Linked DNA regions of Homo sapiens: regions 2, 3 and 4 are each reported to be linked to region 1. Evidence: microRNA targets listed by miRTarBase, many of them from high-throughput screens and not tested one by one. Region 1 holds a microRNA gene; each other region holds the end of a gene's coding sequence. Distances are between the middles of the regions.

The links. Region 1 holds the annotated microRNA hsa-miR-548t-5p (CAAAAGUGAUCGUGGUUUUUG, at 4,534-4,554, shown strand). A microRNA usually pairs through its seed, bases 2 to 8, with sites in the 3' UTR of a target mRNA and lowers its output. Matches are read on the target gene's strand: a 7mer-m8 pairs with bases 2 to 8, a 7mer-A1 pairs with bases 2 to 7 and ends in A, and an 8mer does both.
Region 2: miRTarBase lists YTHDC1 as a target of hsa-miR-548t-5p. Seed matches in the 3' UTR shown: 8mer at 879-886, 7mer-m8 at 1,189-1,195, 7mer-A1 at 1,787-1,793, 7mer-A1 at 2,243-2,249 and 7mer-m8 at 2,607-2,613.
Region 3: miRTarBase lists TRIAP1 as a target of hsa-miR-548t-5p. Seed matches in the 3' UTR shown: 8mer at 5,314-5,321.
Region 4: the mRNA of SLCO5A1 is a reported target of hsa-miR-548t-5p. Seed matches in the 3' UTR shown: 7mer-m8 at 2,723-2,729.

Annotation. Positions count from the first base shown.
Region 1 is chr4:173,263,636-173,270,758 of GRCh38, forward strand. MIR548T (microRNA 548t) reads left to right here and starts at 4,525; the gene lies at 4,525-4,598. The region is part of intron 2 of GALNT7 (polypeptide N-acetylgalactosaminyltransferase 7); the gene reads left to right. LOC124900812 (a long non-coding RNA gene) reads right to left here. Exons shown (of 3, transcript XR_007058367.1): 2 at 693-7,123.
Region 2 is chr4:68,307,638-68,314,760 of GRCh38, reverse strand. It overlaps YTHDC1 (YTH N6-methyladenosine RNA binding protein C1), which reads left to right. Exons shown (of 17, transcript NM_001031732.4): 17 at 438-4,374. The coding sequence ends at 662. Among named protein-coding and RNA genes, the nearest start is that of YTHDC1, 39 kb to the left of the region's middle.
Region 3 is chr12:120,439,069-120,446,191 of GRCh38, forward strand. TRIAP1 (TP53 regulated inhibitor of apoptosis 1) reads right to left here. Exons shown (of 2, transcript NM_016399.3): 2 at 4,896-5,887. The coding sequence ends at 5,804. It overlaps COX6A1 (cytochrome c oxidase subunit 6A1), which reads left to right. Exons shown (of 3, transcript NM_004373.4): 3 at 1,386-1,662. The coding sequence ends at 1,469. It also overlaps the pseudogene LOC124903126. Among named protein-coding and RNA genes, the nearest start is that of TRIAP1, 3.8 kb to the right of the region's middle. RefSeq lists enhancers at 6,498-7,123, 6,657-7,123, 7,071-7,123.
Region 4 is chr8:69,666,363-69,673,485 of GRCh38, reverse strand. It overlaps SLCO5A1 (solute carrier organic anion transporter family member 5A1), which reads left to right. Exons shown (of 10, transcript NM_030958.3): 10 at 160-6,440. The coding sequence ends at 617. Among named protein-coding and RNA genes, the nearest start is that of SLCO5A1-AS1, 160 kb to the left of the region's middle.

The DNA of each region.
Region 1 (7,123 bases):
GGAAGGAGTAATTTATTTTACCATCATCCTATTAATTAAAATTAAAGGAACTCATGGGAACAAAACCCAAGGGTTCAAGGTTCATCAATTTATTAGTTGGGTATTTTATTATAATATCAGTATTTTGTAATGATTGCTTTTGGAATGCCAAGAATTCATTGAACAGGGTTCCCAAAAGTTGTCCATATTTTTTAAAGTCTAGAGATAGTGCTAAGATAAATATAAACACATCATAAAATAAGATCAATGGTATTTACATGATGAATACCTGTGGTCAGACATTAGTCTGATTACCTAGGTTCTAAACTGCTAGCTCATTGGTTTGGAACATCTGCAAAGCTATTCCACGCAAAGCCTTCCCCCTTTAGCAAGTTACTTTTATCAATAAGTAGTGATATACATAGACAAAATAATTGTTTTAAAGTTAGTCTTAGGACCAAATTTTCAGTAGGAAAATAATATACCAACCTGAGGGCATATTTCGATTTTTCCACCCCCTCCACCCTTCCCTTTTCAAAAGAAAAATATCTGCTATATGATACCTGAGTAAGCAGTAACTTACTGTTTGTATTCTAATGATTGTAAAACGTTAAGCAGATATATAATGGAATCAGAAGAATTCACCCAAAGCCAGAGTAACTAAGATATGAGTGGTTATGATACCAGGCAAAATGTTATAAGACAAAGCCAACCTTGCAAGATGATAAATTGTCTTATTTTTCCCATCAGTGTCCATTATAAGGTATAATGTGTGAGTCTACACACTGTGGTGTTGATTCTTGTATCTCTGTCCCAATACGGTGTGAGTTCTCTGAGCACACAGTAGGGTTAGATGGGTATTGCTCTTCCGTATTATCCTCTGAGTCTCAATTTTCTTATCTGAAAAAGAGGGAGTCGTCAATTTTTCTAACTTGTTTTAACCACAAGAAGCCCCAGAATCCTTTTTCAAGTGACTTCCTAGGCAACTCTATGCTTTTGTTCTTGGCACCTTCTTTAAATCCGTGGGCTCCTCCAACAAGTTTGGAAACCTGAGACCTAGATGTTTTCCCAGGTCTCTCTCATTTTAAAATTAAGTTTTTCTGTGTTTCTACATTCTCCCCTGGGTGTTCCACAATTGTTTCTCTAGATAAAAAAGCTGAATAGAACCAGCCAGCAAGCAGCTGGTGTGCAGCTGTTATCACTCGAGCCTGAACTTTGTGGCATGCTTTCTTTTGTGGTATTGCCTCTTCCTGCATCCTGGAGGGGGGAGTGGCTTCACAGCCCTTGGGCCACTGCCAGGTGCGACAGCTCTTTTTGGAAAATAATGATAGATGTGGCATCTATTTACTTGGCTACCTAGTATTGGTGCAGAAGCAAATGCTGCTTTGATCCCAGCACTTTAGCAACTTGCACTGTTTGGCAAAACTTGCGCTTCATGTACAAGCCACTCAACACTGTGCCCATCCTGGCAAGGAGAGCATCAGACGCAGCCAGGATACCAGGCTTGCCCTTCTTCGGTTTCCCCAGGAGCAGGCAGGGGACCAGATGGATTAGCTGGAGGACAGTCAGCCATTTTATATTGCCAAGCTCAACCATGCTAGCATTTCCAGGATATAATCCTGTTATGAGAATGTCTTCCTCTATTAGCCTTTGTTTGTGCCAGCTCCAGGGGTGGAGGAAACCCATTTTGCCTGACATACTAAGAAGTGACCTTTCCAGAGCCAGCTACTGTTTGGTGAATAGTTGTCATGGTCTTTCCCCATATCTCTGTATATACATTCATGACTTTTAGAACATAGAAAACTTATTTTTTGTTCTAAAAGCTTATCATCCCGTATATTTCCTTATCCTTTACCCTTACCAGCCTTCTCTACATGACCTCAGGTTTGTGACATGTTTAGCTCACCACCTAGCACATGGTAAGCAGCAAGTACATGCTAGCTGTTTTACTAGCAGTGATGGTGGCGTAAGCATCTCTCTCTCTCTCTCTCTCTCTCTCTCTCTCTGTCTCTGTCTCTCCACCCCCAAGACCCCCTCATTCCCCCCAATCTCCCTCCCTCCCCCACCCCCCACCCTGTCTCTCTCCCTTCTTCCTTCTCTGAAGCAATATGGGATTGTCTTGAATTTCTTCCACATGTCTTTTCAGAGTTTTTACCTTTTTCATTTCTTTTTTCTGAGTCTAGCGCTTTGCTTTCATCTCAGTCTTCAAATGGCCCAGATAAACTGCTTATCAGAATGGATGGGAGCCCAGTGCATAAGATTGCACTTTGGGAGTCACATGGTAGCTTTTAAAGGGAATGGCTTGGACGCTTCAAGAACCTTGCTCATAATATATTAAATGTGTCATAGAATTTTAGAACTGGCCAGGCTCAATGGCTCATGCCTGTAATCCCAGCACCTTGGAAGGATGAAGCAAATGGATCACTTGAGGCCAGGATTTCGAGACCAGCCTGGCCAACATGGCGAAACCCTGTCTCTACTACAAATACAAAAAAATTAGCTGGGCCTAGTGGCGTGCGGCCATGATCCCAGCTACTTAGGAGGCTGAGGCACAAGAATTGTTTGAACCCGAGAGGCGGACGTTGCAGTGAGCTGAGATAGCACCACTGTACTCCAGCCTGGGCAACAAAGCAAGACTCTGTCTCAAAAAGGAAAAAGAAAAAGAAAAGAAAAGAATTTTAGAACTGAAGGGGGCCAGAGGGGTTCCTTGGTACTGTGAGAGATCCCTCACTTTGTGGATAAGGAATCCCAAGTATAAACAGTATGTGATCATCCAGGATTAAATTAAGTGGCTGAGAAGAATGAATCCAGGTCTTCTAGGACCGACCTTTCACTATACCAGACAAAAGAGCACGAAAGTGTGTTGATCAGAGCAGTAGTTTTAATTGTAGTATTTTTGATACATTTGTGAAACATTTTATAGTAATAAAAATTTTTACTTAGGAGCAAAAGAAGTATGTTATCAATCCCAAGGTAACTCTTTTTAAATGTGGACATATAAAATTCCAATTATATGTAGAAGGGCCTCTGCTTAAATCTAAGTTGTAAGAAGTTATACTATTAATAAGAGAACAGATATAAAAATAATAAAATCCTGCCATTTTCGGCAACATGGATGAGCATGGGGGACATTATGTTAAAAATAAGCCAGGCACCGAAAGACAAGTATTGCATGTTCTCACTCACGTGGAAGCTAAAAAATTTGATCTCATGGAGGTAGAGAGTATAATGACGGCTACCTGAGGCTGGGAAGGGTGTGTGTGTGTGTGTGTGTGTGTGTGTGTGTGTGTGTGTGTGTGTGTGTGTGTGTGTGGAGGGCTGGGATGTGGGATAAAGAGGGGTTGGCTAATGGCTATAAACATACAGTTAGCTGGAAGGAATAAGTTCTAATGGTCAATAGGACAGCAGGTGACCATAGTTAACAACAATGTATTGTGTATTTCAAAAGGGCTAGAAAAGAATATTTGGGATGTTCCCAACACAAAGAAATGATAAATGTTTGAGGTGGTGCATATCCTAAATACCCTGCTTTGATCATTACCCATTATATGCATGTATCCATATATCACATGTATCCCATAAATAGGTACTATTATCATATATTAATTTTTAAAAGCCACCTTAGTATGGCCTAGAAGTAGAGGATCAGTGTTGAGGGTATGGGCAAAATTTACCATTGTACCATGCCTGTCACTTAGATCACCCTCCAGCCTGGCCCCTGAAACGCGTACCTGAATGCTAGGGAGATACACTGAAAGAGCATTCCATTAAAATGCCTGTCAAACTGAAGGATGGCAAATTTCTGTACTTGAGGGTTTGTGGACACCCATAGGCAGATTACCAGCCAGTGGCTTCTGCAGCGCCAGGAAACCATGCCTGGGCACAGACCAGCAAATGTCATCAGCAATGGCCATTCCTTAGAATAGGCACAGCAGGGGGACCAGCTTCACAGGACCAGGGGCCCCTTTGCAGCAGAGTCTTCACCTCAGCAAGCAGAGCTCACAGAAAATGAGGGGTGCTGCATGGTATCCGAGAGTGCCAAGTTCATAAATACACATGAGGTTCACTTTGGGAATCCCATACAGAGCTGAAAGAGTGATGAGCATGATATTGAGCATTTAGGGAGCTTTGGTTTCCTCTTCTAGCAATTGTGGATAATAATACTTGGCTTGTAAAGTTATTGTGGGTAACAAATGTGCTAAAGGACATAAAAGGCATATCACACATGAGCTCCACCGGTTGGAGGTCACAGTTGTTGGAGGCCACCTTCATCCCTTGTGTGGCATAGAGAAGCTTCAGAAGCTCTTTTTTCTGTATAGGCCTCTCATCATGCCAGGTGTGTGGTATTCAGCCTTATCTTTAAAATATGGTACCCTCTTCATTGTATTTCATCCTGCCGTCTTACTACAAAAGAGGAGGAGTCCTAAAGGAAGTTAGTAAATACAAAGAAGTTCTTAAGGTCAACCTAAGATAAAGAAATGCTTGCTTGTAAGTGCTGGGTGATTGAATCTATAATTTGCGTCAAGAGAAGTGAAGAAAAATGTTAGGGTGGTGCAAAAGTGATCGTGGTTTTTGCAATTTTTTAATGACAAAAACCACAATTACTTTTGCACCAACCTAACCTTGTTTTAGGCATGTATCTATTTAAAGACACTTTATTTTACCTATAACGTTGATGGGTTTACATTGAACTCAGGGCCAATAGCACTGTAACTCGCACCCAAACAAAGCTTGTCTCACGTGGATTTTCTGCACAGGACACAGCACAGCATCTTTGTGCTTAGGATACCAGGTAGCACACTGACATTATTCTCGGGAGGCTGTTTTAAACAGCAAAATTACCAACTAAAAGCACAAAAATGAGAAAATCTGTGGCACCAAACAAACTGCAAATAGGACACTTGTTTTCTCTCTCGTTTTTTTTTTTTTTTTTTTTTTTTTTTGAGATGGAGTCTCGCTCTGTAGCCCAGGCGTGGCGCCATCTTGGCTCACAGCAAGCTCTGCCTCCCAGGTTCACGCCATTCTCCTGCCTCAGCCTCCCGAGTAGCTGGGACTACAGGCGTCCACCACCACGCCCAGCTAATTTTTTTTTTTTTTTGTATTTTTAGTAGAGATGGGGTTTCACCGTGTTAGCCAGGATGGTCTCAATCTCCTGACCTCTTGATCCGCCCTTCTTGGCCTCCCAAAGTGCTGGGATTACAGGCGTGAGCCACCGCACCCGGACACTTGTTTACTCTATGAGCAGAAACAAGAAACAGAACATCCTCGTGTGCATGCCCATCAGGCATCTCCAATTGCAATCCACATTTGTGGACGTAGAATCCACAAATAATAAGGAGCCACTGAATTTTTGTATATTTAGTATGGGGCTCAGGTTAATCACAGAAATATTTACTATATAGTTAGTGGGCAAAATGCCCAGTACCCCATTATAATAAACCCAAATCTCAGTAACAGTGAAGATGTTTCTCAGAGGGGCATGGCTCCTCTGATGTTTGTCAGATAAGCATGTCTTATTATAGGGGCACTCAGACAACAGAGGCACAGAACAAAACAAAATATTTTTTGTCTGTTAATTTATTTCAAAAATGAAATCTGATAATGGCTTTTAGAAATGTGAAGACCAAAAAGCATCAAATTTTGTTTTTCCATTTAAGGAATAGAAATAAAGTGGCCGAGTTATTATTATATGTTCCGCCCATAATTCATCTTTCCTTGCTCCTTCCCACCCCTCCCCACTTTATCTTCCACCTCCTTTTATAGATACCTAACTGCTAAAATGGGCTTGGGAAGGCAGCTGGAATCATGCCAAGGTGTACCCAACAGAAGCTGCTGCAGTTAGTGACATGAGCTATGGAACACAGGAGGTCTTTTGCACTGATTGGAATATTTATTAGATTTAGTGCTGAAATAGTCTCTGCTGATAAGCAGACCTAATCTGAATTTCAAAGGTCCTTATGACCACGTAAATGTGATAGTATCATATCCTCAGGCCCCAAGTGCATCACCTTTCCTAAATGGTTGGATGCTGTATTGAATCTATTTAATATCCTGGTAACTAGCTTTGACTTTTTTCAGGAATACTTAATAATTTTAGATTTAATCTTCCCTCCTCCTCCTCCTCCTCAACAGAAGTAATTTAAATTCTTTCCAAGTAGTCATTGCACCTGTTTCTTACTTCAATCTTGGTCTCAAAGAAATATACAACAAACTCCGATAGACCACGGCCATAAAGTCCAATTTTATAATCATGCAGGAAAAGGAATGCTTCTTGAGGATCAAAAGTTGCAGTCATGATGCTAGGATGTTTCATATCCAGTAAAACTAGAGACACCCCACCTCATCAGCTGATTGTGGGAGAAGTCGTTTACAAAAGTCCTGTGAAGAAAGAACTAGATGATATAAATGTATGCATATTTCTAGAACCTGAAAAATATAAAAAGATAATCAAGTGTACTTGGACCCATAGCCACTGGTTTTAACCATTCTGCAGAAGTATAGCGCAATTATTATTGGCAATATGTGAAGATATGGATGATTTCATGGGGAAATCTTTGAAATTAAAGTGGGATAATTTGGAGGTACAGGGGAAATGTTTTTCCCTTTAAACTGTGGCAATAACCCTTGTAATTGCATGTGCTCTCCAGAATAAAGATATAGCAGATTGACATCAGCTTCAGAAAATGAGACATTAGGTACCTGAGGGATTCAGTCAAATTGCTCCTATGAAATCTTGAGTTTTGAAGATTGAAAAAAAAATGCTTGTTTTTGTGACAAGTGTTTTGGGGAATATTTTAGGGGATAATTGATGTTCTGCATTCCAATACCTTAGGTAATGAGGAAGCTGTGGAAACAGCCTCCTTTCTTTTATGAAGGCTTTCGTATTCAAGATCACCATAGAGGTCAGTGCTGTGAAGCTAATCTTGGACGCCTATCTCAATTGCTTCAGAGTATTTAGGATTTCTAAGGTTTTTGATGGATTTTTTTCATCAAAAGATATAATTTTTCCTCCACATGAAATGCTTTAAAGTGGTGATAATTAAACATATTTACTCAGTAATATTTGGAACATTATACTGGAATTCAGAAGCTCTGGCTTTCCTCTTTGGATTTATAAACCACCAAAAGTTGGCAACTGGCCCTT
Region 2 (7,123 bases), 100 Mb from region 1:
AGTTGGTAGAATTGGAGGAAAAATGTAGAGCTAGCCTGTGCCAGAAAAACATTGATGACATTTAGCATAATTGGCAGTATATATGGATAATAGTTGAAGGTCATCACTAGTTAATATCTTTGGCCTAAATCTTACTGAAGGGATCAGATGGAAAAGTCATTAAAGTTAAGTGGAAAACTGCATAAAGAGATTTGAATAATCTGTTGTAGATGTCTAATGAGGCATCATCCTTTTTCTAAACCATGTCAGCATATTACCTTCTGTGAATTAATTTATTATTGCATTTCTTTGGATTGTTCTCTCCGCCGATTATAATACAGAGACTTTTCTTTTTTTATATTTTAAAATTGTTTATATAAATTTTTTTTTCAAATCAGGGATCCACTTAACACTATTTGCCTTTTTGACATACCTAACACATTTCTTTCCTTTTCTAGCATGATTATGATATGAGGGTGGATGATTTCCTTCGTCGCACACAAGCTGTTGTCAGTGGCCGGAGAAGTAGACCCCGTGAAAGAGACCGGGAACGAGAGCGAGACCGCCCTAGAGATAACAGACGAGACAGAGAGCGAGATAGAGGACGTGATAGAGAAAGAGAAAGAGAGCGATTATGTGATCGAGACAGAGACCGAGGGGAGAGAGGTCGATATAGAAGATAATGGGCTTTTGGAAGCACTGATTGTTTAAAGATACAAAAAATCTTGTATTTTTTTTTTGTGTGTGTTTACAAGTAGTAAATTTATTTTCAGCTGTCTGCCTATGAAGTTCATTGTGTAGAAGGATTTATTATGACCCCCTTTGTTCCAAGCATGCAGTATCATAAGAACTGGAAAAACTCAAATCCGCCAAAAATCCACAGCTGACAGTTGAATTGACACTTTTATTGGGGCAGAATGGAACAGTCCAAGAATGTAGATACTGATTCTTTCTCCATAAATGTTCTTATAGTGTGTTCATCCTAGAGTTATTTTTTTGTTTGTTTTTTTCCTTTTTGGATCTTGATTGATAACTGCCATGATATTTTGCTTTGATGTGTTTCTACATGTAGTTGCACACGGTTCAGTAAAAATAATGCTGCTATCGAGTATGCAAATATTGAAGTATGATGGTTTGACTGTATGGCAGTGTTGTAGCAGCCTCTTGTTTTTTTCCCCATTGCCTCTTTTTTTAAAAAACTTATAAAGTCACTTTTTATTTTTCCTCAGTCTTCAATGACGAGAGCAATATTAAGAAGACATTGCTATCTAATTTTTAATCTTTTTAAATGAAAAATTCCTATGTTCAGTAGCGTGGTTGATGCTATTGTTTAGCCTTCCCCTCCAAATTGTATACATTGGCTTGGAATGTTCACAACTTGCGTGCGTGGCAGCGGAAGACGATTCCCATATTCTACATTGCTACTGTTTTGTATAAAATAAATTGGTAAAGATTGACGGTTATCTTTTGTATCTTTTTCTTATCCAATTGCAGGTTTGTTTTATTATGCAATAATGGACATAAAAGCATGCTTTTTGTTCAGGAATTTTAGGAACCCCATTTGCTTTTTTTGAGGCACACTTTAGCAGAAATGATTGACCTAGGCCTGTTGCATTAAAAGCTTACTTCTATTTCTAACATAAGATACACAGAGTTATGTTAATAATTTGGTTAAGTATTTATACACCTGATAACATTTTGAGTCTACTCTGATCACAGAATCGTTTATTTAGGTTTTCTATTTGTTGTTTTAGTCTTCTGTAAGTGAACGACTTTGTACATGCTTTCTACTTTACTTCATAAATGGACTTTTAACCCTCTTGTATTAGTTCTGTATTTTAAGTTAACTGTCCAGTTCTCCCAGTGGTAACCAACTATAACATAGAAATAGAGCCGCTCAAGAAAACAGTTTATGAAATAATTTTTTTGAATTTTTTCTTGAGTTACACCTGGAGTTTTGGCCTTTGGAATTTGGCCTTTATAAACATTAGGAATATTTGAATGTTTGATTTTTTTATAGTATCAACAGTTGTACTGTGTACCAGATCACATAGTACAGTTTTACATTTAATCTATATTGGCCTGAAAAGAACAACACAGGCACTTTACTCTTAAAGGATATAATAAACTATAGTTATACTGCATTCATATTCATACCAGCATGTAGTATCTTTCCCTGCATTCACAGAAGTTTTATTTACAATGACAAAACTAAAGCCTGAGGATTTGTTTTAAATCTGCATTGTGGTAGAGAGGAAAAAGTACTTTTAAGGAAACCTGGGTTCTAGTTTTGTCATTGTCTTTAATTAAACCGGTTAGTGATACATGGTAAGTCACTTCATTGGCATTTTGTGTATTCATCAGTAAGCTAGACAAGATGATAGCTACAGTTTAAGAATTTCTGTAACCATTATACAAAACTGGTAGGTAATATTAAAGGTATTTTCCTGAAATAATAGGAATAAATACTGAGCACTTTGTATGCAATAGAGACTTTGTGCTTTTATATACAGACTCATTTAAATGGGCTCAGAGAGGCTAGTAAACTTGCCCAAGATTAGAAAGGTAGTAATTGATGGGCCAAGATTTTACCCATGTTTTTATTTGGTGTTTCTAAACCACCTCATCACTTTTGAAAAAACAGTATATAAATTAATAAATGTTTTGGAGATGGAGTCTGTCGCCCAGGTGGAGGGCAGTGGCATGATCTTGGCTCACTGCAACCTCCTGCCTCAGCCTCCCGAATGGCTGGGACTACAGGCACCCACCACCACACCCCGCTAATTTTTGTAATTTTAGTAGAGATGGGGTTCCAACATGTTGGCCAGGCTGGTCTCAAACTCGACCTCAAGTGACCTCACCTGCCTCAGCCTCCTAAAGTGTTGGGATTACAGGCGTGAGCCACTGCACCTGGCCTGAGATTTTTAAACATTAACATTTCCTTCAGGCTTAAGCAGAGGATTTTTCTAAAGTGCCATCCAATTAGATGTTAAGTTATGCTTTGTATGTTGAGCTTAGTATTGAGTCGATCTATTTTAAAAAGCCAACATTAAGTTTTTACCAAGTATCTGGCACTATTCTAAACAATTCTGTTGGCTCACATAATCATCACTGTTTTCTCCTTTCCTAATTTTTAAAATAAACTTACCGGAACATTGTATAAAAAATGCAAGATTTTTTTCTGTACAGAAGAGTCAGTATATAAAAATCAGTATGTTTTATTTAATATTCGTACACATGACAGCTTTTGTCACTGTGAGAAGACATGGTTTCTTTCGTGTACTCCACTGTGCTGTGATTCTAACAATCTACATTAGTATGATGTGTTCAGATGAAAAACAGAAAATTCAGTCATTCCGAGTTTAGAAATCCGGTCAGGGATTTTATTGGCTGGAGTAATAGTTCAAAGGAGTGAAAATTCAAGCATGTAATTTTTGGATTTGATTTCCTCCATAATGATTTCCTCCATAATGGCTTTTTTTCAAGCATGGTCTAATTTTTCAGAAAATGGCCATTATCTCCAAGCTTCCATTGTCCATGTAGTTTCAGTGGCAGGAGAGAGACTATTTTCCTCCCAGTGTCCATGTCAGTTCCCCAAAAGGACTGAATAGCCATGTTGGTTTTGGAGCCAGCCGTAATCCAATCTGTATTTCCAAGGAAATGGGGTTCTTTGTCTCCCAGCATTGGGAAGCAAGAGAGGCACATGTTATGGTCACCTCTGTGAGGATTACATCAGGAAGGACAGTCTCCAAAAGACATGGACAGAGGAAATTTAGCAGATGTCCATTAAATCAGGATCTCATACAAGTTATAACACCTGAATGTTTGACTTTTCAGAGTATTTTGCCATCACAGGTGTGGCATCTTGCCCTTGGATATATCTACATTCTGCTGTAGAATGTCGTGGTCTTTCTGAGGGTCACATACATCCTGTCTTGTCATAATGTTAACCATTAAGAGTCCTCAGGGGCATGGAATTGAAGAAGGAACTGTTGCCAGCAGTTAACTGACCAAGCTAGAGTTCCCTGACCCAACGTAAGGGTGACTGTGACACACATGGATAATTTTAGCTTCATGTTTAAGATTTTGTTATTTGGGTAGGAAACATTCCAAATGCAGTTTGAAACACATATTAAAATTGAGGCACACAGGAAAGAACTGGCTCAAGTTTAGTCCCCAAGTTCCTTATAGTAGGAATAGGAATCCTTAGAGTATAAGCAATCCATGCATAGTATTCTGTTATCTATCATGTAGATCATTTAATCTCTAATTTTTTGGGGTGGGGATTCTCTTGTTTCTAAATCTTACACTTTCAGTTTCTTCTGTGTCTTAAATATAGATTATTGACTATTGTCTTAAATACTAATAAATACATTAAATGTATCTTAAATACTACTATGTCTTAAACACAGACTATTGACTATTAAATATTTTCATTTGTAACCTTCATACTGGAGATTTGAAAGACAGTCAAAAATAATAGCTCTGAAAAGCTAAGGAATATACAATGTAAAAAAATGTAAGACTGGGTGCAGTGGCTCACGCCTGTAATCCCAACACTTTGGGAGGCCAAGATGGGTGGATCACCTGAGGTCAGGCATTCAAGACCATCCTGGCCAACATAGTGACACCCCTCCTCTACTAAAAACACAAAAATTAGTGGGGCATGGTGGCGCATGCCTGTAATCCCAGGTACTCAAGAGGCTGAGGCAGGAGAATCGCCTGAACCCGGGAGGCAGATGTTGCAGTGAACCAAGATTGTGCCATTGCCTTCCAGCCTGGGCGACAAAGCAAGAGTCCGTCTCAAAAAAAAAAAAAAAAAGTAAGTTATGGCAACAAAAATATAAATTGTTGGGAAGAGGGTAAAAATCTAGAATAATTCTATATGATCTGTGTTGTTACCAGCTTAAAATAGTGTATTACAACTGTAACATTTTATGTAAGCCCATGGTAACCACAAACCAAAAAATTACAACAGATACACAAACAATGATAAAGGACAAAGCTTATTAGCACTACAGAAAATTACCATATCACAAAGGTAAACAACAAGAGAGGACGAAATGAACAAAGAATCTACAAAACAACTAGAAAACAATTTTAAAATGGCAAAATAGGTCCTTACCTATCAATAATAACCTTGATTTTAAATGAATTAAATTATCCAGTAAAGAGTGGTTGAATGGATTAAAAAACAATGTAACTGAGCTGCCTAAAAGAGACCCACTTCAGCTTCCAGAACACACAAAAGTTGGAAGTATAAGAATGGGAAAATCCATACAAATAGTAACCAAAAAAGAGCAGGGATGGCGTAATATACATTAGATAAAAGAAACTTCAAGGTAAAAGCTGTTACAAAAACAAAGATGGTCATTAATGATAAAGCGGCCAATTCATCAAGATGACATAAGAATTATATATGCACCCAATAACAAAGCACCTAAATACATATAGAAAGTATTGGCTGGGCGCGATGGCTCACACCTGTAATCCCAACACTTTGGGAGGCTGAGGCGGGCAGATCACCTGAGGTGAGGAGTTTGAGACCAGCCTGACCAACATGGCAAAACCCCATCTTTACTAAAAACACAAAAATTAGCTGGGTGTGGTGGTGGGCACCTGCAACTCCAACTACTCGGGAAGCTGAGACAGGAGAATCTCTTAAACCTGGGAGGCGGAGGTTGCAGTGAACTGAGATCACACCATTGCACTCCAGCTTGGGCAACAGAGCGAGACTCCATCTCAAAAAAAAAAAAAAAAAATGTACGTGAAGGAAAAATAGATAGCAGTACAATAATAGTTGGTGATCTTAGTACCCCGCCTTAAACACTGAATAGCTCAACTAAACAGAAAATTAAGCAAATACTGGGTTTGACCAAATGGACCTAACAGACATACAGAACTTTCCATCCAAGAACAGCAGAATATACATTTCTTTTCTAGTGCACATACCACATTATGTCTCAAAAAGCTAGAAAAAGAACTAAAGCCAAAGTTAGCAAAAGGAGGAAAATAATACAAATCAGTAAAACAGAGAACAAAAACACAGAAAAAAGCAAAAAAGTAATCTTTGAAAAAATAAGATCAGCAAAATACTAGCTAGACTATGACAAAAAGAGGAAAGACCCAAATAAATAAAACCAAACATGAAAATGGAGACATTACACCAGATGCCTCACAAGTAAAGTATTATAAGGCCTATTATAAATATATGCAACAAATTGGATAATCTAGAAAAAAATAGATAAATTCCTGGAAAAATATAACCTACCAAGATTGAGTCAGGAAGAAGTAGAAAACTTGAACCAATCCAACAAATCAGTTGAAGAAGTCATTAAAAACCTTCCAACCAAGAATAGCACAGGACCAGAAGGTTTCATGGCCAAATTGTACCAAATGTTCATAAAAGAATCTATCAATACTTCTTAAACTCGGTCAAAAAGTAGAAATAGAGGAGATACTTCCAAACATTTCATGGCATCAGAATCACTTTCATATCCAAGGCAGACAAAGACACTGTAAGAAAAGATAGCTATAGGGCAATATTTCTAATGAACATTGATACACTAATCTTTAATAAAATATTAGCAAACAACTAAACAACACATCAAAAAGAACATACATCATGACAAGTGAGATTTAACCCTGGCATGCAAGCCTGGTTTATCATATACAATCAATGTGACATGTGAATTATGAGAATGTTAAAAACCACATGTTCCTTTCAAATGATGCAGGAAAAGAAGTTAACAAAGTTCTGCATCTTTCCCAATAAAGACTTTCAAGTATAGAAGTAAAGTTTCTCAAAATAGTAAAAGTCATTTATAAAAAACACACACAGATAATATTACATCAGTGGGGAACGACTGAAAGTTTTTCCAGTAAGATCTGGTATCAGGGGAGGATTCTCACTCTAATCACTTCTATTCAACATTGTACTTGAAAGATTAGCAAGAGCAATTAAATAAGTAAAAGAAATAAAAGGCATCTAAATCAGAGGTAAAACTATCCCTATTTGCAGATGATATGATCCTATATGTTGAAAACCCTTAAAGATGCTTAAAAAACACTGTTGGAGTAAATCAGAAAAGTTGCAGGATACCAAATCAACATGGAAACAAAAGTAACATTTCTATAGACAGAT
Region 3 (7,123 bases), not on the chromosome of region 1:
TGGGCATCTGGCAGCTACTAGTTGCATAATGAAGAGACTGACAGCTTTCTCTATTCCCCACCAATACCTTTTCTCGACTGTTTTATCATTGGTTGTTGATGTAGATATATTACAATGTTGTGTCCTCTGTTGTTTGCTGTATCTTTAACAAGGGCTTATTCTGATTCTTCAATACTGGCCATGCGCGGTGGCTCACGCCTGTAATCCCAGCACTTTGGGAGGCCAAGGTGGGTGGATCGCCGGAGGTCAGGAGTTCAAGACCAGCCTCGTCAACATGGCGAAACACTATCTCTACTAAAAGTACAAAAAGTAGCCGGGCGTGGTGGCGGGCGCCTGTAATCCCAGCTACTCGGGAGGCTGCGGTGGGAGAATCTAGGAGGTTGAACCCAGGAGGAGGAGGTTGCAGTGAGCCAAGATCCAGCCATTGCACTGCAGCCTGGGCAACAGGAGTGAAACTCCGTCTCAAAAAAAAATAGTAATAATATACTTGATCTTAGCCAAAAGGCCGAGAAGTGATGAAAAAAGTTATTATTATTATTATTATTATTACATCACCTAGCCCATATAGGACTGGCCTTGTAGAAACTTAACCTAGACTCTTGAATTTGTTGAGTCTTTGAGCGGCACTCCCATCCTTGTACAATGCAATTAGAAGCCAAACAGTAAAGGTTTCTCAGCCTCAGCACTGTTGACATTTGGGGCTGGGTAATTCTTGTTGGGGGGCTATCTTGTGCATTGTGAAATGTTTAGCCATATCCTTGGCCTGTACCCACTAGGTGGCAGTAGTACCTGCGCAACCCCACTCCCGCTTCCCCCTCCCCCGCCCCCATCACAGTGTCTCCCGATACTACCCAGTGTGCCCTGAAGGGGCAAAATCACCCTGGGTTGGAGACCGTTGCCCTAAAGTAATGCTTTTCAAAGGTAATAGGCAAGATAATTCAGGGTGGGCTGCAGTTTCCCAGCCCAGATATTGTTTGAAGTCTGGGATGGTGCCAGAAATCTGCATTTAATTAAGCATCTCCCTCCCCTAATACTGCCACCATTTTGATATAGGTGATTTGAGGATTACACTTTCATAAACACAGCACTGGATATACTAGTTACTAGGGAGAGGATGATGAGTAACTAACTTGAGCTTGCATTTTCTGCCATCCATATTTGTTTCTGGAATTAAAACTGTCCTGTAGCCAGGATAACTTTAAGGGCTCCCCTGGTAGTTATAAGAGCTCCTTAAATAATGGGAAGGTTGAACTACACCAGTAGATAAAGGACTAATTTCCATTTTGTTTTTATATATGATCTGTCACCCCGTTATAAGCAGTTCATGACGGTGTTCTTTCTAAATTATTTTCTGGAATTATCTAACTGACATCTTCACTCCACAGCCGTTTCCCTGGGGAGATGGTAACCATACTCTATTCCATAACCCTCATGTGAATCCACTTCCAACTGGCTACGAAGATGAATAAAGAGAATCTGGACCACTACCCGGGCACCAGGGACCACAGCACTGGTTTGGACCGTTACTCTGCACATGGACCAGAAAAAGTATATGGGACCTTAAGCTCACCTTCTTTACTTGTATCAAATGATGACTGGTATACTGGTCTCCCATCCCTTTGCTTGTGGCAGGAGATGGCTTAAATAAATAACTTAAATTTAGATTGGTCATGAGCTGAGAGTTACTTTCTTTGGTTGTGTTTTTTCGCAGAAATTAGCATTTGAGCTTCAAGTCAGTGTCCAAGTTGAAAAGAAATTGGCATTAGTTATTTCTGTTTCCACAGTGAAGGTCTAGGCTGCTGTTTAGTGTTACAGGTCCAATTCAGCCCATTGAATAAGTGTTTATAACAGCCCCTCTTGGTTTATTGTGCCTGATGTGGATAAAGGGACCAAGTGGAGTGGTGCTAATTAAGCATCAAGATTAGTCCTTGGTCAGGTGCGGTGGCTCATGCCTGTAATCCCAGCACTTTGGGAGGCTGAGGCTGGCAGATCACCTGAGGTCAGGAGTTGGAGATCAGCCGGGCCAACATGATGAAATCCTGTCTCTACTAAAAATACAAAAATTAGTTGGGTGTGGTGGCGCACTCCTATAGCTGGGTGTAGAGGCTTGAACCCGGGAGGTGGAGGTTGCAGTGAGCCAAGATCGTGCCACTGCACTCCAGCCTGGGCAACAGAGTGAGACTCTGTCTCAAAAAACAAAAGATTGGTCCTTGACGGGCCTGAGATATCAAAGACATTGAATGGCTAGCAGAATGCCTGCAATTTACACCTGAAAGAGGTATCTGTATTTCTCAAGAGGAAGTGCTTGATCTGGGTCTCATCTTTTTCCTGTCCCATTCCACTAGCATTTACTGCAGAATCTTCCCTGTAGTCATAATTTTCTTGAACATGTCAAGTTCTTTTTTTTCTTTTTTTTTGAGACGGAGTCTCTCTCTGTTGCCCAGGCTAGAGTGCAGTGGCACGATCTCCACTCACTGCAAGCTCTGCCTCCCAGGTTCAAGCCATTCTCCTGCCTCAGCCTCCCGAGTAGCTGGGACTATAGGCACCCGCCACCACACCCAGCTAATTTTTTGTATTTTCAGTAGACACAGGGTTTCACCATGTTAGCCAGGATGGTCTCGATCTCCTGACCTCGTGATCCACCCGCCTCAGCCTCCCAAAGTGCTGGGATTACAGGCGTGAGCCACCGTGCCTGGCCTCGAATGTGTCAAGTTCTTACTTTGAGGTAATCTCCTTCAGGGCTGGTAGGGTCAGAAATCTTAAGAGAAACAAAGGGAGCGTGACACATTTCTGCTTATTGGCTTTTCTGTGGAATTAAAACTATCCTGCTTTAATGGATAGTAAATGGTAGTAGTAGTAGTTACAAAACCACTCTGAGAGGGCAATTATTATTATTATTATTATTATTATTTTTTTTTTTTTTTTTTTTTTTTTGAGATGGAGTCTCGCTCTGTCGCCCAGGCTGGAGTGCAGTGGCGGGACCTCGGCTCACTGCAAGCTCCACCTCCCGGGTTCACGCCATTCTCCTGCCTCAGCCTCCCAAGTAGCTGGGACTACAGGCGCCCGCCACTACGCCCGGCTACTTTTTTGTATTTTTAGTAGAGACAAGGTTTCACATGTTGGCCAGGCTGGTCTTGAACTCCTAACCTCAGGTGATCTGCCCACCTCAGCCTCCCAAAGTGCTAGGATTACAGGTCTGAGCCACTGTGCCTGGCCAGAGCTGGTTTATTTTATTTTATTTTATTTTTTGAGACAGAGTTTCGCTTTTGTTGCCCAGGCTGGAGTGCAATGGCATGATCTTGGCTCACCACAACCTCCACCTCCCAGGTTCAAGCAATTCTCCTGCCTCACCCTCCTGAGTAGCTGTGATTACAGGCATGTGCCACCACACCTGGCTAATTTTTTGTATTTTAAGTAGAGATGGGGTTTCTCCATGTTGGTCAGGCTAGTCTCAAACTCCCAACCTCAGGTGATCTGCCCACCTCAGTCTCCCAAAGTGCTGGGATTACTGGCGTGAGCCACCGCGCCCAGCCAGCTGGTTTATTCTTAAGGCTCAAAGGAACACTTTCGTGGTAAGGTTCAAGAGGCAACAAGGTATTTCATATTATATTACATTAAACTGGTAACGCAAAAGTAAGGCATATACAGTACGGAATAGAGAATCTCATTGTCTTTGCCATTTTGTAATAATTAACGGAATAGAGAATCTCATTGTCTTTGCCATTTTGTAATATTACAGCCTGCACTTCTGAGTCCCTATAGAGCTGTTTTGGTTGTGGCCAGTCTGAGTTTAGGACAGATGCATTATACTTCAGCTTGCTGCCTGGCCTCCCTTGGCTGGGTTCCAAACATCTTTTATAATCCTTGGATAATGGACCCTAGCCAGTCATAAAATATAAATGAAGAATGTTTTGAAATGACATTAAGGACAAGTCACATTAAATATGATGTAGCAATTGGTAAAGTGGAGAAAAGACAATAGAATTAGGGCCTTCTATAAATCAAGTTTCTTGGTTTATTTTTCAGACAGGGTCTTGCTGTGTCACCCAGCCTGGAGTGCAGTGGTACAATCACAGCTCACTGCAGTCTCCACCTCTCAGGCTCAGGTAATTCTCCCACCTCAGCCTTTAGAGTAGCTGGGACTACAGGCACACACCACCATACCCAGCTAATTTTTTTGTAGAGACAGGGTTTCGCTATGTTGCCCAGGCTGGTCTCAAATTCCTGAGCTCAAGTGATCCGCCCATCCCAGCTTCCCAAAGTGTTAAGACTACAGGCATGAGCCACCATACCCGGCCTGTAATTCAAGTTTCATACTACTTTGGGTATCTAATAAAACCAAATTACTCAATTAATTGTGGGGATTACGTGACATTCTGAGGTAAGTAAGTGCTCTCCTGATCCTTTTTTGGTACCGTAGTGTATTTGTATAGCCTATTGTGGAAATTTTAGAAATCAGTGAGGTTTTGGCTGGGTGCGGTGGCTCATGCCTGTAATCCCAGCACTTCGGGAGGTCAAGAGTTCAAGACCAGCCAACATGGTGAAACCCCATCTCTACTAAAAATACAAAAACTAGCTGGGCATGGTGATGCATGCCTGTAATCCCAGCTACTTGGGAGACTGAGGCAGGAGAATCATTGGAACCCAGGAGGTGGAGTTTGCAGTAAGACAAGATTGCGCCACTGCACTCCAGCCTGGGTGACAGAACCAGACTGTCTCAAAAAAAAAAAATGTGAGGTTTCTGATTGCCATACTGTACCACCTAGCTTAAGACAAGTCACTTTTTCTTCACCTTTAAGTTACAAAACACAAAACTCTCCCCACTGTATATATGAGGTTTGTAGGGTAACAGGGTAATAGTTCCATAAAATGCACTGAGTTCCAGAGGCAAATAATGATAGAAACTAAATGTTACAATTTATTCCATCTTCAGGATTACAGACATTACAGGGCAGGATGAGTAAACAAGGCAAATGAAGCGAGCACCTTCAGCTTCCCCCCTACCCCGACATTTAACCAGATGCAGCATTTTGACATTTTTAGGATATGCAGGTTGACAATTCACTGACTTGGGTTGAGAGCTGGCAATAGCAGATCTTTGCAATTTAGGTTCTTCCTCCACAGCTATTCCAAGTATCTTAATTCCTGAACTGCACACTGAGAGCTCTGAAATGGTGTTCACTGCAACATTCTTGCAGCTTTCACATCTTAATCTGACACCTCTTGTGAAGGCAGGGAACTGTGTTAAAAGCTGTCTTCCTCTTTGCTAATCCAGGCCACCATCAATCTTAACCATTAGTTACTATATAAAAATAAAAGTGTGCTCAAAAGCACTCACTGAAACTGTTGTGCCCAGATCCCTTTTCAGAGCATTAGTTCCCTGAGAGGAAAAAAAGAGGTCCTAACCAATTGCTTTCATAAATAGTGACCCCAGTACAGTGTATATGTCTTTTGCAGCAGAAATCAAGAGGTCAGGCAGCTCTGCTCATCCTGACTAGTTTATCATCGTTTGCATACAAGGTATATTTATGTAAAGCTGATTCCACGCCAAGTATTGCAACCATAATCTCAAAAAAATTGTTCAATTTTAGCACACAGTTCCTGCAAGATACCACAGCAGGTGAGAAATCATCTCAAAGAGTTCATCTTTTACAACTGAGAGGAAAACATCGAAGGAGGAAATAAAACTCCTCTCTCCTAAGTTCCTCATCAAATCTGATGGCTATGTTCACAGAGTTAGTTGACAAAAATCCAGAGTCCTCAATTTCTGGACTTGCGAAATCCTTCAAGGTGACTGTCAAGGTCAAGAAGAATTTTCAGGCTTTTCTTTGCCATGGCCCATGAACTCCAGTCCTTCAATAGGAATCTCTTTCTCCTTTATTGCTTTCTGGTAGGAGGAGAAAACACATTATAAAGACCTACATGAAGCTTAAGTTGCAAGCTTTGTAAATAAAATATGACAGTACAAAAGTAAAATCAAGCTGATTATAAAGACTTATAACCATGATTCAAACCACATACTTTTTAAAAAACAAGTACCGGTCAGGTGTGGTGGCTCACGCCTATAATCGCAGCATTTTGGGAGACCAAGGCAGGTGGATCACTTGAGGCCAGAAGTTAGAGACCAACCTGGCCAACATGGCGAGACCCTGTTTATACTAAAAATACAAAAATTAGCTGGGCATGGTGGCGCATGCCTGTAAGCCCAGCTACTCGGGTGGCTGAGGCATGAGAATAGCTTGAACCTGGGAGGCGGAGGTTGCAGTGAGCTGAGATTGTGCCATTGCACTCCAGGCTGGGAGACAGAGTGAGACTCTGCCTCAAAAATAAATAAAAACCAGAAGTACCATAATGAATAAATCAAGTGTAAGACCTGAGGGAGACTGGAAAAGGAGTTGTGAGGGAACCGTTAAAATTAAGTGAAATTTGAAAAATAATCATCACTTTGTGTTAGTGAAAGACTTAGGTTCAAATCTGGGTTCCAGGACTTACTGGCTATGTGACTAACTGTAAATGGGATGAAGACAGCAACTACCTCGGGGAATTGCTGTGAGGATGTGTTGGGTTAACTTATTGGAAGTGCTTTGCCCGGTGCTGTTCTTAACAATTCAAAGCAGTTCCACATCCATTGGGCCAGAATAAACATTTCCTGGCTGCAGTTGCGGGGACTGGTCAAGAGAGAGAAACAGGCTAACGAAGGGTTTATAACAACAAAAAAATGTGACCCTCCAGTCTGAATTCTGAAGTATAATCCCGCCCAGACCCCAGCAGTAATAGTGGAAAAGTGCACCACCTGCGAAAGAACCAAGGAAACCTGATGCTAGTGAACTCGGATTAATCACTTCCTATTTCTGGGTGTTAGTTTTTTATGTATAAAATATGAGTAACTATGCCCACCTTGCGAGTTTAGGGTGAACACCAAATGAACCAAAGGATGTGACTGTGCTTCTTGAAAAGCACTGCCCCAATATTTGTCATTCGGAGAGACACCCAAGTGGCCTCGGTGGTGATGGTAGGGGAGCGAGCTCCTGCCACTGGCCTCACTGCGACTTTTCTCCACCCTTCCAGTCCAGTCCCAATCCCCGTAAAATACGATGAGTGTGGTGGGACACAGCGCCGAGAA
Region 4 (7,123 bases), not on the chromosome of region 1:
TGATAAAATATGATGCGTCTTAAAAAAAATCTGGTAACACAAGAAAATCCCTCCCCTCAACTGGTTTTAGAGCACACAAGTACCTTGCTAATTTACAAACCTGTTTTCCCTTGGAAGATGTGCTAAGTCTTCGTATTTTCTTCTTCTCCACCCCTCTAGCATACATTCCTACTCCAATCTACTTTGGAGCAGTCATTGACACCACCTGCATGCTCTGGCAACAGGAATGTGGTGTGCAGGGTTCTTGCTGGGAGTACAACGTGACGTCGTTTCGTTTTGTGTATTTTGGTTTGGCTGCCGGCCTCAAATTCGTTGGGTTTATTTTTATTTTTCTGGCCTGGTACTCCATAAAATACAAGGAGGATGGACTGCAGAGGCGGAGGCAGAGAGAATTTCCCCTGAGCACCGTGAGTGAGAGAGTGGGACACCCCGACAATGCCCGGACTAGATCTTGCCCAGCTTTCAGCACCCAGGGAGAATTCCACGAAGAGACTGGCCTGCAAAAAGGGATCCAGTGCGCAGCACAGACCTACCCGGGGCCCTTCCCAGAAGCAATAAGTTCCTCTGCGGACCCGGGGCTGGAAGAGAGCCCCGCTGCCTTGGAGCCGCCCTCCTGAAGCTTGAAAATGGAAGAATTTAGTTTTGTTGGTTGAATTGAAAATGGCGACTTGAGAAACAACTGTGCCTTCTTTTCTTTCTTTCTTTTTTTTAACCTCTACAGACACAATCCTCAAACCAACAAAACTCAGTATACACAGCCGCTATTCATTGAGGGCTGGATACCTCAACAAGACTGAGAGCCTTTCCCCGCTTCTCTCCAAGAAGGAGACGTTCAGCTAGATTTGTTCCCATTTCCGTTGTGTTAATTCAAAGCTCATGCTCCCCTACGGTACAGGCTGAGGTACACGGTTAGCAAAACCATGGGAAGGGGAATGGCGGTGCATATCATTAACTAACACTCCAAACAAAGGTGAGCTTGCCCAGGACTTGGCATTTCCAAATCAAAGTTTTTAGATATGAACACCTACTGTGAGTTCTGCTACAAAGCACAAATGAATTTGTCTCAACTATGCAATTTGATTGGAAAAATGTATGTGCAGCATGTTACATTTACTTTCACGGAATAAAGCAGATATGTTTCTGAAAAGAGGAAGCTGAACTTTCCATCCAGTACTGTTGATAGCATTTTAAGCCATAGCAGTTATAAATCAGGTAGAGTTTTTCAAATGCTTCAGAGGAACCATAGGCATAGTGTGATAGAAGGAACAGCTACTTCAGGTCGTAGGACACATTCTCTTTCAGTCTGCCTGCCCCATCCTAAGATAAAGAGGCTGCTGAATCATAAATCTGATAGCTTAAATATAAACTCCAGTATTCTTTTGTAAGGAGCATTAAAACTAGTGTGCTAAACAATATGGCTAGAAACTGTAATTTGAAATGCATAATAGGGAAAGAAAATGACAGCTTTCTCATCCAAGAAAATTGTTGCAGAAATTTTCTTTAGCTCTACGGGCCCACAAAGTCACTGGGAAAAGTCCCACCTGAGTATTTTAGTTACATCTTGAAAGCACTGGCAAATCTGTGTGGTTTTCTTTTTTTCTGGACAGAAAATTGCTGTGGTTGCTCCTGAAAATGCATACTTATATCAGGAAATCTGTGCCTGGGATATGAAAATCACTTAGAATACAGGAGGAGGGAGATCTGTGTTCTGGAACAGAATATGATCTTAAGTAATTGTTGAAAATTATGTAAAATAAACCAGTCCATCCGAAAGAACCCTACTTTATCAGAGATAGAATCGTTTTACACTACCCTTTGATTCCCCCTTACTGTAAGTTTCTGGCAGTGATTCTGAGAGAGGATTTTTCTGTTCCTAAATGCACTTTGGGTTCATTACCCATCATTCTTTTCAGTACCTCCCAGCACATCACTTTGAAGTAAGCATCATAGAGAATGCTTTCTACATGGCTCTTAAGATAGATGCTTCCTGACGGCGCTAACGGATTGACAGCAAGTTAGCTCAGGGGTTCTGGCTGCCAGGGAGTGTAAGGGCCAAATGCTGATATAATTGTGAACTTTTTCTGCCAAGGAGCCTATGGTCATGGAGGGCTAATTAGGGAAATGTTTTTCTCTTCTGGTTTACCCTTATCCCCAGAAGAGATGTGATTGACAGACTGTTCCATGATTCAGGCTTCTGCTCTCCAACCTTGCTTGACTGCACAGGTGGAATTGTGCAAATACTCCTGGGTATAAGGCTGTTTCCCTCTCTTCCTAGGAATGACATTGGTCAAACAGTTCTCTTGGTTGCATACAGTTTGTGTTAACACTGTTAGACTGAACAATGTCTACAAGGGGTGGAGCTAGTGGTCTCAGGGGCTAAGGACTTCCCTCTGGTTCCTGGGCTTGGCTCTCGGGGAGGTGAGGATTCTTGCTTGGTTAAGACTGTAATTGCACTGGTAATTGTCAGACTCTGGCCAATGTGGCATATATTGGAAGTATTCAAAAAATCTTGCTGATTAAGAAAACCTTGCTGATTGAACTAGTGTCTCCTTTGGGGCCTCAGGGTTCCCCTTTACCCTCTATGGGAGAGCTCTGATCCTTTAAAGGAGAAATTTTCCTTTGGTGTGGGAGTTAAAGATATGTAGATTGGAGAGGTGTGGTGTTTTCTTAATTTTCTTCTGATCATTAAGATACTGCATTGAGAGAATTTTGGTGGGATTGGCACTTTTTCTGGTAGCTAAGATTGCTGGACTCAGCACGGAGTAGTTAGAGAGCCCCCTTACTCCCTTTGCTGCCATGAACAGTCATCCAGTTTGGCGATCACTGATCAGGTGCCAGGTATCTTCAGGTGTCATATTACCTGATTACCATCTGCCACTCCATAAAATCCTTTGGGATGATTGGGCCAGAACTCAAAGAAATGGGCCTGAAATGTGCACCACAGTGTTAATATTGTACTTCCTCAAGTATCTGCTCCTTATAAATAGCAGGTATTTCATTAATGTGTTGTTGGTGAATGTAGACTAAGTAGTAAAAATCATGAGAAAATAAAGCTTTGGAATATGTACCAATTAAGAGTGGTTCACAAAATACTTGGGGCTATGGTAGCATCACTGGAATATTACATAGCCAACTGAAGTGACTGTTTTGTAGATGATACCATTTAATTGTATATATAGGGTCTTATATGTTTCTTAATAAATTGATCCCATTACTTTATAGTCACAGCTCCTATTAGAAGTTTTAATGAAGACTCTCCATGAGCTTAGGCTTCAAATTACTTGTTTTGGAAAAGGTCATCTTGTCCTTTATAAACTGTAAATTCATATATTATTTAGCTTTAATATGCAAATACAATATCCTTGAGTTCATCCTATTAATTTAGAAACTCCCAGGAGGTAAGATGGGTGGTTGGAGCGCATTCTTTGGTTATTTTCATTAGCATTAAGTCCTTATTCTTTATAGGTGGATTTAATTCTTGAAAATATTCAAAAGTAATTCAGAGTCAAGGTGTTGGGGATGGAGAGAAAGGAGGAACAGAGAGGAAAAAAATTAGCATTTGTTGAGTGTTGACGATTTGTAGAGCATTTTGACAAGCACTTAATATACATCATCATTCATTTTGATCCTCTTAATTACCTTGCAAAGATTTGATTCTTTTTTTTTTTTTGAGACAGAGTCTTGCTCTGTCACCCAGGCTGGAGTGCAGTGGCTTAATCTCAGCTCACTGCAACCTCCGCTTCCTGGGTTCAAGTGATTCTCCTGTTTCAGTCTCCTGAGGAACTGGGATTAAGGTGTGTGCCACCACACCCAGCTATTTTTTTTCTATTTTTAGTAGAGAGAGGGTTTCACCATGTTGGCCAGGCTGGTCTTGAACTCCTGACCTCAAGTGATCCACCTGCCTTGGCCTCTCAAAGTGCTGGGATTACAGGCATGAGCCACCATGCCCGGCTGATTTTATTATTTTTTTAAAAAACATATGAAACCAAGACTCAGAGAAGTAAAATAACTCATTTAGGATCATACAGAATGGTAAAGTCAGGATTCAGACATAGATTTCTCTCACTCCATTATTCATTTTTTACACTACGCAATGTATACAATAGCTTTTGGTTAACAAAGGCAAGGTGACTATAAAATCGTGAGATTAAAGCATTTCAATTTTTTGATATATTACCGTTTATGAAGAGTAGAGAGGTTTTTTTGTGTAAATAAAAAAAACTGTAGGAAACATCTGTAGGAAATATCAAGATTTAATGTTTAACTAGATTTTCAAGGTAAATTTACATTTATTTAGCTAAGTGTTATATTAAAGTTATTTGTCATAACATACCTCAAATATTTATTTATAGTTCATATTTAATACAGAACAAATCTAGTCTTCGTGTTAACATCGGGTCTCGGCAGAGTTTCTGAAATGAAACATTATGAAGAAAGGTAGTTCAGATTTGTTGAATCTGAGCTTTAGGGATTTCAAGTGTATTTTTTTTTATTTTCCTCTTTCAGAATATTAACATCTCTATTAGTTTTTTGATGAATATGAGTTTTAAGATTCCTAATAAGGGTTTTAAGTGAACACACATAAAATACATATCAAACCACTGATCCCGATTGTTCCCTTTAGTCGCTGTGACATTGTTACCTTTAGTGGCATGCACTTGGAAATGTCAGCCTTCAGAGAAGGGGGAGTTACATGGAGTAAGGCCTCATGGATGTCATGGTGGTCCTCCATGTTCACCAACCACCAAGAAAATTCTTCTTCAGTCCACAATTCCAGCTTGCGCTCTTTGGTGCACTTGGAGCCAGAAAGTGTCTTTTTGGCCCTGTTTTGTAGAAACCGTGCATGTACCAAAGAGAAACTTTAGAGTTTGGATGGAGCTGAAGCATTGATGGGAATTCCCTAGTGCACCCAGGAGCAGGAGGCAAGCCCAAGCCTCGGGTGGTAGCCAATTATATTTTGTGATCGTGTATGTACTTAAAACATCAGAGATGACACAGCACATGAATATAACTATTGATATGTAGGTGCATACTGAGTATTCTAAGTAGCAGATAGATACCAAAATACTGTATAATCCCAGAATTGCCTAAACTGCAGGTTTGCTAGTTCTCTGTTATACAGACCAGTAGGTAGCCTTTCCACACATTTGTGTTTTCTCTTCCATAATAAGAGAGTGCTGCGGCTGGCAGGCAAAGGTAGTTGCCTCATGCACTTTATCTTTTTGTCTTTTTCTCTTCTTCATCTTTTGGGATGCTGCTGGCTGTATCTGTCCCAAACTTCTTGTTGCATTAGAATCAGATCTGTGTATGTTTGAGGAGGTTTTATTTTAAAGACTTCAGTTTTACTCAGCTCTAGGAAGGGTCAAATACAACAACAACAACAAAAAACAGAAAACAAAAAACCCTCCCTAGGTGTTTGCTTTTGCAACATTAAAAAAAATGCCTTGGTGCTAAAAAGTATTTAATGACGCATGTTCACCACTAAAAAGCGCCACTGAATTCACAGTATTTCACTGCTAAGTGGCTGCATGTACTTTGTGTTTGGAAATCTGAAGAATTTTCCAGAAAACAAGCATCCATTACTCTCATTTCAACAGTTACTCCATCTATGCTGCAAAAATGAAGCGTGAAAGGGGGGATACTTTTCTATGGAATACTCAGTGCTTTTGATATTTATTTTAGCAAGAATAATCAGATGCCAAAAATAATTTCAGAGAAAGGTAGAAAAAATATTTCAGGTAACCTTTTCTTATTTCTTCTCCAAAAAGATTACACCCATGTAAGGTATTTTTAACACTGGGGTTTTGAAGGTGTTATCTTTTCTGGTATCCTATCACTACATGTTAAAATTGAAGGAGAAAATATTATTGAAACTAAAGTAATTGCAGGGACACATTAAACCAAAGGGGTGAACAAAAGAGGTTTAAAGTTTGTATCTAGAAATGAAAAATAAGAATCATTGGTAAGACTAGTACCGATTATTGGCAATTGGTAATTGATAATTGGTAAGAGTAGTACCAAATAATGGGCATTTTTCTTAAAATACATACCTCTACCCCAAACCCCAAATGTTAATTTAGAATCCTGAAACAGGCAAGTCAGGCTCTGACTCTTTTGTTTAAGGAAATGTAATACTGTGTCAACTAAACTGGCATTAGGTTCTTAGTGGAGTGTGTGTTTGTGTGTGTGTGTGTGTGTTTTGTGTAGAGGTATGTTTGTGATGAAAGGTTTTGCACTGTTGCATAAAGAAGTTTGATTTTGTGATTTTTAAAATGATATTCATTTGGAGACTTTTTAAGGTAATTTAAAAGATGTATAATTTCCGTGTGTTTAATGAAATCTGTTGTCGATGTACTAATCTTGGTTTACAGCATCTTGAATACTTGATTATTGAAAATTAAGAAAAAAGTTAAAAATGAATAAAGTGTGTTGGACTGAAATGAAATTGTTTCTAGAACTTTGTTGTTTGAAGGGATGAAGCAATGAGACCAATGCGATTGTCCACCCCTCCTACATCATTAACTCCTTACCTAACTGTTAACTCTACATTGAAGCAGAATGTTCTATGTGTAAAGTTTTAGGAGTATAGTTTAAAGAGCCATAGCATGTTTTTTTTTATTGAGTCTCCAAAGAGAATAATTTTAAGTAATTCATCACTTACTTATTGAAATTCAAAACAGACTTTCAGAACACAGAGCTATGTACCTTGAATGTGATTTGTTAAGTTATACTTAAATAACATATTAACCCTGAAATCTCAATGGCTTCATAACACACAGGTCTGTTTCTCATTCACTTACATATCTATTATGGCTCTGTTCCACATAGTCTTTCAGGGATCCAGGCTGACAGAGGCTCCACCATCTTGAAGTGGCACCACCTGGAACTTTCATCGTTAATATTGGTTGCTGGGGCAAAGAAAGGAAATGCCCTGAGAATGGCAAAAGAGCTTTTCTCTTTCTCAGCCTGGAAGTGCCATGTGTCTATTCTCCCATTTCATTGGCCCTAAGTAGTCTCATGGCTCTGCCTAAGAGCCTGAGGTCCTGAAAATATAGAGGAGTAAATGGTAAGAATTCAGTGGGTATAATTCTTTGCCACATGGTTGACTTTGATAGGTTAAGAA